Linked DNA regions of Homo sapiens. The protein of the gene in region 2 purifies or fractionates together with the protein of the main gene of each other region. This does not show direct contact. Each region holds a gene or a part of one and is shown on either strand. Other genes may lie near its edges.

The links.
Region 1: the proteins of FHIT (region 2) and MTMR6 purify together in Homo sapiens (affinity purification with mass spectrometry; 2 studies listed by BioGRID and IntAct, with this or other methods). This does not show direct contact.

Annotation. Positions count from the first base shown.
Region 1 is NC_000013.11:25,284,295-25,292,303, forward strand, and holds the start of MTMR6 (phosphatidylinositol-3,5-bisphosphate 3-phosphatase MTMR6), read right to left. Parts: upstream 3,195-8,009; 5' UTR 2,954-3,194; coding exon 2,930-2,953; intron 1-2,929. UniProt on the Homo sapiens protein: Lipid phosphatase that specifically dephosphorylates the D-3 position of phosphatidylinositol 3-phosphate and phosphatidylinositol 3,5-bisphosphate, generating phosphatidylinositol and phosphatidylinositol 5-phosphate.
Region 2 is NC_000003.12:59,746,626-59,750,598, forward strand, and holds the end of FHIT (bis(5'-adenosyl)-triphosphatase), read right to left. Parts: exon of another isoform or gene 2,955-3,973; 3' UTR 652-2,954; downstream 1-651. UniProt on the Homo sapiens protein: Possesses dinucleoside triphosphate hydrolase activity. Cleaves P(1)-P(3)-bis(5'-adenosyl) triphosphate (Ap3A) to yield AMP and ADP. Can also hydrolyze P(1)-P(4)-bis(5'-adenosyl) tetraphosphate (Ap4A), but has extremely low activity with ATP.

The DNA.
Region 1 (8,009 bases), on a different chromosome or scaffold from region 2:
ATCTCTTGTGAACTAATTGAGCAGGTTACTTAAATTCTCTAAGCCTATTTCCTCCTCACCTATAAATGGAGATAATACTACCCAACTGACAGGGTTATTTAAGAGATCAGTGATGATAATGTATAAATTAACAGATTTATACAATTGTACATATTATAAAGTAATAATATTGTATAATTGGCTATATTGACATATAGTTGCTCAATAAATGGTAATTATTACTTTTCAAATAGAGCTGACTGAACAACAAAAATCACTAAATAGTCATAAAGGACACTCTACGGTCAATTTTGATCCTAATGACTAAACTACATAGAGGTCAAAACAGCTAATAAATCTAAAACAATCCACTTTTGCTTTTTAAATACTTACACTTATTTTTGCAGCAAACTAACTAAATCCAGGTGAAGGCTATGCATAATGGAAACAAAAGTTTGGCTATGTTCAAACCAATCTTTTAAAAGTAAGTTATTTCCCAATACATTAATAATTTAAGAACATGTTACAGTCCCCACAACAATTAACAGAATGTACCCTGAGGTCCACCTCTATCTTGCTGTTATATACCCAGTGTCAATACAGTGTCTGGCACATACTAGGTACCTAGAAAATATTTATTTGCGGTCTACATACACTCACTTAATATTACTCCAGAGTAGTGATCCAATACTAGAAAAACAACCCAAAGTAATAAAGGAGCATATTTGAAAAGTAGTTTTAATAGACAATTCATCAGAAATTTCTTAGTCTCTAAAAAGGCCTTATTAAACCACTAGCATGAGACCACTGTGTAAAGATAAGTCAAAATCAGAGCATTACTTGAAGAAAAGTTCATCAGTTGGTAGATAAGGAGGAATATCAGACAAAATGAAAGTCACCAGTGACAACTTTCAAAGAGCTAATAAGAGGGGCTACAACTCTACAAATAAAAACAAAGATATATATTCATAATAAATTGAATGAGGAAAGATTTAAAATAACCAAGGGATCCTAAATATTTTCCAAGTCTGTTCACTCTTATCATCCACCTAAGAATAGGATTTGCTCTAGTTGATCAGATTCAGTTTACTTTTACTGATTTTTTATTCTTTTCCGCCCCCCCCCCCCCAATTATGTCACCCAGGCTGGAGGGCAATGGCGCAATCTTGGCTCACTGCAACCTCCACTTCGTGGGCTCAAGCCATCCTCCCATCTCAGCCTCCCGAGTAGCTGGGACTACAGGTACATACCACCCCACCCGGCTTTCTTTTTTTTTTTTGAGACTGAGTCCCGCTCTATTGCCCAGGCTGGAGTGCACTGGTGCCATCTTGGCTCACTGCAATCTCCACTTCCCCGGTTGAAGCAATTCTCCTGCCTCAGCCTCTGAGTAGCTGGGATTACAGGCGCCTGCCACCATGCCCGGCTAATTTTTGTATTTTTAGTAGATATGGGGTTTTGCCAGGTTGTCCAGGCTGGTCTCGAACTCCTTACCTCAAGTGATCCGCCCACCTCGGCCTCCCACAGTGCTGGGATTACAGGCGTGAGCCACCGTGCCCAGCCTTTTACCGGTTTTCGATTGTGTGCTATGCACCGTAGAAAGCATATGAAAAATAGAGGAGCTTCGAACTGATGCAGAAGGAAGTCACGTGCACTTAGCTACTACATAATACATATCTGGAACCAATACAAGAACCTGATCCAATGTCCACTCTAGTCCTCTTTTCCTCTGTGCACCTTCTACGAGTTTGGTTATAGACTTAAGCACCCTTCCATTTTCAAAATTTAAGTACCCACAACTTGAATTCTCAAGTTATTTTATCTTTCTTCTCTTAAAAAAAAATGTTAAGGGGTTAGTTTTCAGAATCTTCAATTTTACTAGATACGGTATGCACAATGTTAAAGACAAGCTCCAATAAAAATTTATGTATACCTTTAAAAGGTTTGTGAAACATTTAAAAAATTTTTAAAAACACAAATTCTTCTTGGAACAATGAAGATAACGAACATCTGTGGTTCCCTAAATGAGCCGTAATTTTAAGATGGGCAGCAACTAAAGGGCTTCAGCTTTGCCAAAACGTCAAGAGGCTGCCTTGCAGTGGGCTCGCAGTGATTTTAAAATGTTATTCTTCTCGTCTCGATTTATGTTTTTCTCCCTCTCAAAGTTAAACTTAAATGTCGTTGGAAACGTAATTTGGTAACATTCTGATGTCATTTCCTTCCGTTTTTAAATTTGTAACGAAATAAAAATATTTGTTCGTTCTCAAAATGAAGGTCTTCCACACACAAAAATTAAGCATGGAGTGCAATAAGGTCAATCGAATAAAGCTGCATCCGACCTTTTAAAATATGGAATAACATTTTTCCCTTCTCCAGAACTCTTGACTACTGACACAGGACAATGCCTGAAGTATGAAGCACAGACACGGAAACACCGGATGCGAAAGACTGGAGACCGAGACAGCAAAGGGAGGTGGAGCGGAGTGCTGATCTCGGTTCCTCCAAAACTCGTACTGTGAATCTGTGACACGGGACAATGAAATGTGAGCAAGGACAAGCTTACACAGCATCATAATGTTAATTTGAAGACGGTTTTCCGGTTGATGAGGCAACGAAAGGCTGAAAGACTCCAAAGTTAAAGGAGCCCCAATTTTGCCCGAGAAAACGTAGAGCTAGGAGGGCGGTGACCAGTTTTCCCAGACTTATCTCTACGCACTCCAAGATGCTGAAAGTGGGACCCCTGCTCCTGTAGGTACAGGAGGCCTCTGCACCCCGCTTGGCCCAAGCTAACCCTGCCCTCCCAGACCAGGCCTGGCCAGACCCTCCCGCCCCGGGCCGGGTCTCCGCCGGGCCGGCTCCCAGCCCCAGTCAGGCCAGCAGAGCCTTCGTCTCCTCCTGCCTCAGCCGGGTCAGAGCAGGGCCCCTGAAGACTGGCGATCCCGCGCCCGACTACCTTGGTCGTCCGGATATGCTCCATCGCAAGGAGACGTCAGCCGGCAGCCGGTCTCACAGGCGTACCATACGGCTACAGAAACAGGGCGGTGACAGCGACAGAGAGCAAGCGGGAACTCCCTCCACCAGCCAGCGCCGCGGGTCTGTCTGCCGGCCCCGGTGGCGTCAACGGCGCAGGTGCAGCCGGTGAGCGCCGTCTCCTAGAAACACTTCCCCAAACCCCGCGGCCTCCCGGGGGACTCGGGGCAGGCAGACAGAGCGTGTGTGGACCGAGAGCGGCTTGCTGGTTCGTCCCGGACAGCGGCGGATCCCACAGCGCCCCCTGCTGGAGGAGGCCGGTACTGCTCACCACCCCACCCGAGGCGGTCTTTGTCATCCCGCCGAGCGGACGCGCGGGGCGGTCGGGGAGGAAGACTGCGTGAGAATGGATCCCGAGTAAAGGGTTCTTGTGGGGTGAGGGCAAGAGTGGAGGATGTTCTGAAGTCCATCGCCATACCACTGGACAGCACCAAATTTAGTTTGAGCTGCAGTTCTACTCATAAGAATGTATTCTAAGGAAATAATCAGATTTGGAGTTATTATTCTAAGGAAATAACCAAATAAGGAAACCAGCCTTATTTGAAACAATCAACTCTCCAATCCTACGGATTCCTTATGTAAAGTATGATGATTAGCTAGTCCTCAATCTGGTCTGGTGTCAGAGTCCCGCCTCCTACCTCAATTTCATACGATGTTAGCACCAGCATCCATTAAAACTCATCCTGTAGAGGGATATCACATAACGAAAATGTTAATGCTGCATTACTGAGTGAAGAAAAAACTGACTATGGAACAATAAGTTCAATGTAGCCGTGCTCTGTAATTTTTATTTATGTAAACAAAAAGTTTACATTTCTAGGTGAGGGTTACAGGTAATTTTTGTTAGAACACGTCTAATGTGGTACTTCTCAGCCTGGAGTGAGTTTTCTCCCCGGGGGACATTTGGTAACATCTGGAGATATTTTTGGTTGTCTCAAATGGTGGTGGTGGGGGGGTGGCGGCGGGGGGCAACTGGTGGGTGGAGGCCAAGTCACAAGTCGGCTGCTGAACACCCTACTAGGCACCAGACCAACCCCCCAACTACAGGGAATTATCCGGCAGATGACAACAGTGCAGAGGTTGAGAAACCCTGCTCTATGCCAGGCGCGGTGGTTCACGCCTGTAATCCCAGAACTTTGGGAGGCTGAGGCGGGCGGATCACTTGAGGTCAGGAGTTAGAGTCCGAGAAACTCTGCTCTACGTTTTGTAAGTATTCTGTACTAAGCCGGTTAAGGTTTGTAATCTTCATCTTTCATACTGTGATTGGTGTTAGAAAAGCCTAACATCTAAATTTTCTTTTATAATTAAAAATTTTGTTTCACTTATTTGTTTCATTTTGTTCAAGTTGTCTTGGTTTGTTTTGTTTTGAGTGCCTACGATGTTTCAGACAGATTGCCAAAGCAATGGAGATGGTTATTAAACACAACAGCCTTTGCGGTGGAGTTGCTGACTCCTCTAAGCTAAATATGTAATAAGAGTTACATTAAACCACCTAGAAACCAACCTTAGTACAGTATCACATCCACCCCCTCCCCCCGAAAAAAAACCCCACAAATCCTGCTCAGAAAAAAAAAAAAATATATATATATATATATATACACATATATATATATATATATATACATATATATATATATACACATATATATATATATAGAGAGAGAGAAAAGTAATGTAGGTCTTTACTGAGGATTGCTTTTTGAGAAAACAGAAAGAGGTGAATTGTATAGCATACAGCAAGACTTTCTTAACAAAACTTTTTATATCATTTTCCTCCCAATTTACAACTTCCTCCTTCCCCATTCCCCTACAGATTATCCTCCCTCTTCTCATCTCCTCACTTCCTGTGTCCTCTCTTTACCAATTCTCACAGAGAGGCAATCATAATGATGTCAGGTGACCAAATGTACTGAGTGCTTTACGGGTATTCTGAGGAAAATGCTATTGCTTTCTTTATTTTAGAGATGAGACAAGCGAGACACAATGAAGTGAAGTAACTTGCCCAATATCACATAGCAGATAAAGCCAAGATCCATGTTATAAAGCCAGACAGGCTGACTTCAGAGTCTGTATTCTTAACAACTGTTTTACATTGATTTGCTTCTCAAAATCCATATTAAAGTTCTATTTATGTTAATATGATAGGCTAGAAAATTACCTAGCTTTACAGAAAGAAAGTAAAATAACAGATAAAATATTAAATGACGTTTCTTTGACTCTTGAGTTGAATACTCTTGCACTAGATAGAATATTCCTTATGGTTAAATCTGGCAATCACTCAGTTCCATTATCTTTCCTCGAGACATCTCTTTAGAGGTCTCCAGATGCTTCTAGGAGCCTTTTCTCCTTTTGCTCCAGTTTGCACTTGTGTTCTCTGAGCCTACTGAATGGATATTATCCTGGGACTCTCCTCACCATGGGCCTGAGAAATGTGTTGGTTACTTGTGCTGAATTTTTAGATCCTGTGGTTTATCTTTCTTGATTTACTTACTTGCATTGTTTTATTCTGATGTAGTATATTCTGTATTAACTTCCTGAGAAAGGGTGAATGGAGCATAAATCCTTGACGGGAAGTTTGGCTAGGTCTAGAATTCTGTAATTTTAATTAGGATTTTGAAAGCTCCCAGAGACATATCCTGACTTTCAATGCAGTTGTTCAGAAATCCGCTGGCATTCCGATTTCCCTTTAGGTGTCGCTTCTACTTTCTCAGGATGCTTTTTGGATCTCTTTATCTCCAATGGTCTAAAATTTCAACATAATAAAACTTAGCTTTCTTGTTTATTTTTCTGCCCAGTGTTTTGAGCTCTGTAATCTGAAAACATAAGTCCTTCAATTCTGGGACATTTTCTTGTATTATTTCTGTAATAATTACTGTTTCGTTCTTTTTCCTTCTTCCTTTTTCTTTTTTCCCTTTAAAAATTTTTTTTATTCTTCTCACCTCTCTTCTCTCCCTCATCTTTCTTCTTTCCTATTTCCCTCCTGTCCTTTCTCCTTTCTTTTTATTTTGTTTTATTTTTATTTATTTATTTTTGAGACAGGGTCTCACTGTGTCACTGAGGTTGGAGTGCAGTGGCACAATCTCAGCTCACTACAGCCTCAACCCCTCAGGTTCAAGCAATCTTCCCACCTCAACCTCCTGAGTAACTGGGACTACAGGCGTGCACCACCAAGCCTGACTAATTTTTGTATTTTTTGTAGAGACGGGTTTTTTCCATGTTGCCCATGCTGGTCTCAAACTCTCGGGCTCAAGTGATCTGCCTGCCTCAGCCTCCCAAAGTGCTGGAATTACAGATGTGAGCCACTGTGCCCAGCCCCTTTCTTTTTTCAGTAGAAATTCCTGGTCTGACTTCCTAATTTTACTATTCTTTCACTCCTATTTTTTAAGAATTTACCTTTCTAATCTACTCTCTAGGAAATTCTTAATACTTCATTGTTTCTAATATTTTTAGAATACTCCATTATTTCTAATATTTTTAATTGCTGCAATTATATATATGTACATGTGTGTATGTATGTGTATGTATATATATATACACACATATACATGCACATACATATATAATTGTAGACAAACCTTGTGCTCAGATCTTGGATTCTTCTTTTTCTTCCTTTTTTGTCTACTGAGCACAAGGTTTGCCTCCCAAAGTGCTGGGATTACAGGCATGAGCCACTGTGCCTGGCTTATATTTTTAATTTCTAAGTGTTTTCACTTTAAATAGACTTTATTTTTATTTATTTATTTATTTTTTAGAGATGAGGTCTCGCTATATTGCCCAGGCTGGAGTGCAGTGGCTGTTCATAGGTGTGATCATAGTGCACTACAGCCTCAAACTCCTGGGCTCAAGCAACCTTCCTGTCTCAGCCTTCTGAGTAGCTGGGAATACAGGTATGCTATACCACAAGATGCTCCAGGCTCATCTTGCATCTTTCCCACCCCAGCCCTAGAATCATCCATTTCCCCAAGGAGCCCTGGTTCCTTTTATTGGAAAATGTTATTAGAATCCAAGATCTGTTCTGAACCCAAGATGACCTAACTGGAAAAAAAAAGAATCCAAAATCTGAGCACAAGGTTTGTCTACTAGAATGTTATTGTTTCTAAGTGAAGAGATCTTTTTGGTTACATACATTTTCCTATTTTTCTTTGTTTTTCAGTTTGTTCATTTATTTGTTTTCTAGCCTCCTGCTCTGATACATGTAAGAGCTCATCTCTCCTAGGTGAATAATAGTTTTCATTTATTTATGTATTTCTTGTAATTTTTGCTTCCTGAACCCTATTCCTTTTAGGTTCTCTCTACGTTTGCTGTTTTGGTCTCTGACTTTGATGTCAGAAGCGATCCTCCAATATCTAATCATCTTTAATGGTCCTTTCCAGCAATAAAATGCTGATTGGAAACTTACTCTTTATAGGAGAATTTGCCTATTGTTAAGCTTCATTATTGAATGATGGGGTAGGGGCTTGGTACTTTTGTTGGGGGTCCCTACATCATTATTTGAAGACCCTGTGCATGTGAAAGGCACAGGGAGCTCTGGGAACAGATGTCCTGTTAGCAGCAGTAGCTGAGTAGAAGCCCCAGTCAGGTACCATATATAGGATCCAGATGATCCAGGCCATCTGCCTCTCTGTTGCCAGCTCTCCCCTTGGTGATTACTGCAAGGAACAAAGAGACCCATTTCCCCTCAATACAAGGGGTGGGAAATGAAGAGACATTGGAAAGAGAAGAGGTTCATTCACTAATATTTGTTTTATTGTTAGTAATATTTATAAAGCACACGATCCAGTTTCAGAGGATTCAATATGCACCTGTGTTCCTACATTCCTATCCTTCCCTTTAAAAATGTTGACATACAATAAAATTCATCAGATTAAGCATTTTCTGCTGCCTGATCTCATCAATTATGCCAAGAGCACACTTAATACTGTTACAATTCAATTGAGTAGTCCACTGCAACTTACAAACTAATCTGAAGGAAGATAATCAGGAAGAGACTTGTTTTTAGGGTT
Region 2 (3,973 bases):
ACCATCCTCCAGGAAGAAGGCAACATTAGATAAGAAATGCAGGTCTCCTGTCATCTAATGTGATTTAGAACATAGACTAAAAGAGCCATTGCAAATCCCTTGTCCCGGAACTCAGTCCAGTGTGTAGGGAGCAAATGCATAAATTCACCTATGCAGAGAGCAGACGCTGAATTCCTGGAACGAAAGGATTGCCAGCCTCATCAAGGATCTGTCACATGGTGAGTGAGACAACTGCAGCTTCATTCAGCAACCCTTGGGCTGTTGAGCTCCTTGTGCATGGTGAAGGCAATAACCCTTTCTCACTACTGCTCAAGAAACTGCAATTCAAAGTCATTTTCTGGTAGGCAAAGGATACAGAGAGAAGCTAAAACACCAAAATGCAGGTGCATATAACCCTGGAGGGTTATATGGGAAGATAAAGAGAGTTCTTTTACACAATTAATCTGATGTTGGTGTCTTGATGGCTTCAAGAGGCTGAGGAGTCAGTACATAGTTTCAGAATGTTTACCTTTGTTGTCCTAATGGTACTCTTGCTATGCTGAGGATTAATTCTTTATATGTAAGGAAGATATAGAAATAATACTTACCAAGGAGTTGCTAGGTGTATTAGTTTGTTCTCATGCTGCTAATAACCACACACTCAAGACTGGGTAATTTATAAAGGAATGAGGTTTAATGGACTCGCAATCATGGAGGAAGGCAAAAGAGGAGCAAAGCCACATCTTACATGGCAGCAGGCAAGACAGCGTATTCAGGGGAAATGTCCTTTATAAAACCATCACTATCAATCATGAGAACAGCATGGGAAAGACCCTCCCCCTTGATTCAGTTACCTCCCACTGGGTCCCTCCCATGACATGTGGGGATTATGGGAGCTACAATTCAAGATGAGATGTGGGTGGGGAAACAGCCAAATCGTATAACTAGGTATGTCCACCCCAAACATTAAGTCAAGAACATCTTTTTGGTCTTATAGTCTTTATTCTTATATAGGGCATCTCTGGATATAGGTGTTCACATTCTTCTTTGCAACCTGTTGGTTTTCAAGACAGACTGTCGGCAAGCAAAATGTCAGAGGCAAGCACTGAGATTTGACCCATCAGCCCTAGGGAAGCTGACTCTTTGGTTTTCCCCCATGCACCTTGTCTTCTTGATATGCCTGCAGGGGTTGGGGGGAGGTGGGTGGGTGGAAAGGAGTACTGGTTTAGGGTTGAAGCAAGTCTAAAGCCAGCTTGCTCTGGGTTTAAGATCTGGCCTCCACTGCTGTTTCTCCAAAGTTGGGAGTCAGTCATATTCCTGTTTAAGATAATCTTAAGTGATCTACATTGAATCTCTCAGTAGGTTATTCTCTTTAATCCTTCTGAATATGCCAAATGGAGAGTTTCGGTTTGGTGCTAGAATTAAATGCCCCTCTAATGGTGGCTAGCCTCACTTTTTAACACAGAGACTGAATCTCACTCCTAGTTGCTAAGGCAAGCAACTATGCAGAGCTGGAAATCATCAGCATTGTTTTTCTCTTATGTTTATTTTTATGCTTAACTTCTAATTACAGGTAGTACTTGTTTTTCTTTGAGGCTGAAATATAAAGTTTAAGATATATATACTAAAATTCAAAAAGTGAATCAAGTAAATAATGCTCTAGGTGGTCCACAAAGATAAGAAAAATCATGACAAAATGGGAATGAATGCAATTTGGGGAACACTGTATTCGCCCAAGTGATGTTTATTTAGGCATGTGGTCAGATGGTAAAGAAAAGAAAGTGGGAGGGTAGCCTAGGCAGGATTCAGCATGATCTGAGAATCTTGCAAGTAGAACCAAGTTGGTTGGGGAAATCCAGGCCCATTTTGGTTTCTGCTACCTGGCTGTAGTGTGACCAGGGAGGCAGGTGCTGGGCAGGGTTGTATTAACAAGGCAGGTAAGGAAGAAGTCCAGCAGGCGAGGAGGTGGGAGGTCCTCAAGGCAGAAATAGGCCAGTAGATAAGGTGAAGAGGCTAAGAAGACTATTTGGAGGGTACAAGGGGAGATGGGACAGGGAGAAGGAAGTGGCTAGAGAGGTGAGCTCTTTTAGCAAGGAGGGCAGTACACAGACTAAGAGAATGGCCTTTAGGGTGGGACTGCCTGGATTCAAATCTGAGCTTTGCCACTTACCGTTGGCCTTGAACTAATAATACTTAACATCCTTAAGCCTTAGTTTTCTCATCACTTGCAAGACAGGATAATAACAGGGTCTACATCTTATAAATTCTTAGCAAGTGTGTTGGCTAGTGTTATCAATTCCAGGGCTGAGCCCTATCATGTCTGCCTCTGTGCATGTTGAGAATTGTGCAGTTTTGCAGAGTGAGCACCATGAATGTCTTTAAACTTGCTCTGCCTAAGACTAGCTTGCTGCTGAGGGAATAATCACGAAAGCTGGAGAAGGCCAAGTCTATCTGACCTTCAGATTAACAATTTTTAAAGTCTAGCTATGTCCAAATATTTCATAATTGCCCTATTTACTAACACATTTCAGGGGTTTCATGAACCACTTAATGTATAAAAATTCAATATGTAGACATTTTTTTTGAAAAGGGAAGAAATAAGCAGGTGGACCAATCCAACGATTGAATTTCCTTTAAAAAAGTAACTGTAACTGTAATAGGTTTGTTGCCTAATTCATGGCAAGTCAATACACCGAGACACAGGGTTGCAGCAGAGAAGGAAGTTTAATCATAAGGCTGCCGAATAAGGAGACAGGGGGAAACCTCAAATCTGCCTGTCTGAGCCGTTTAGGTCTAGGTATTTTAAGGGAGTTGGAGTGACCGAGGTGGGGGATCACTGGTTGAAGAATACAGGATGGTGAGATGAAGAAACTGCATTTTCATGCTGATTCAGTTCCTCTTGGGGAGAGGCGGGGGGCGGTCTTCAAACTGGTTGGCAATAGCTCTTTTGCTGGAATTCAGGATCTGAAAAACATCTTAAGCCATTTTTAAACAAACAAAGGCCTTATGATTCTAACATCAGAAATCTTCTCTGTAGGAACAATGAGGAGGCAAATGGTTAGCATCTGGTGCTCTGGGACTTTTGGTTACGAAGAAGTGGGCCAAAGTGCAGCCTGATTAATGCTTAATTACAACTATATTTCTGTCCAGAACCCAGCATCTAATTCTTGTTAACCCTGTGAGGATGGTTTCAATAGAATGTTTCCATTGTCCTTAAAGGGAGGTATAGTTAGTCCCATTATACTCCAGGTAATGATGACAGTCTTGGCAAAATCTTAGGACCCTAAGTTGTTTGCCACCTCACAACCTATATTATCCGTCCTAGTCTTAGTTACCACATCTGACTGCTGGGAAGACTGAGGGTGATTTGTTTGGTCTGTGCACAAAACCTTTAAAGAGAAATACACATGTTAGTTAACTTAAAAATCCACAGGTACTGTGGCAATAGTTTGTGTAACAAGTTAGGGTAAATATCTTTCTGGTAAGATGTACAAGGGAAGTCAATTTACCTGGAAGACAGGAGGTGTCAGGCCTCCAGGCAAGACAGAAGCAAAAACTGACAAAACAAAGCCTACAGGAAATTTGGGTAATAAGTTTGAATCTTCTTAAAGTTCTTAAAGTGTCTAGAAAAAGCATTCTAAGACAAAACTCCTACAATTCAGCAAGCCTTGGGAAAAAGGCTAAAGCTTTCTAGCCTCTACCTGAAAATACCCACTGCATAGAAAACCCAGGAGAAAAAATTCAACCTAGGCAGTCAAGTCTGAGGTATTGTCACCCCATTTAAATTTGAACAGGGCACTCTAAAATGACATACTGGCCTTCATAAGAGGAACAGAAAGAGGTTTGTAGTCATGCCCATAGGCCTATGTTCTTAGGTAAACTAAACTAGCTTGATCCTTAAAAAACGAGAGAGAGATGGTGAACAGTGGAAAAGGTTCAAAATAAAATATGAAAGACAGCCTCTGTTATAGCACTTGCCATATCCCCCCAGGCA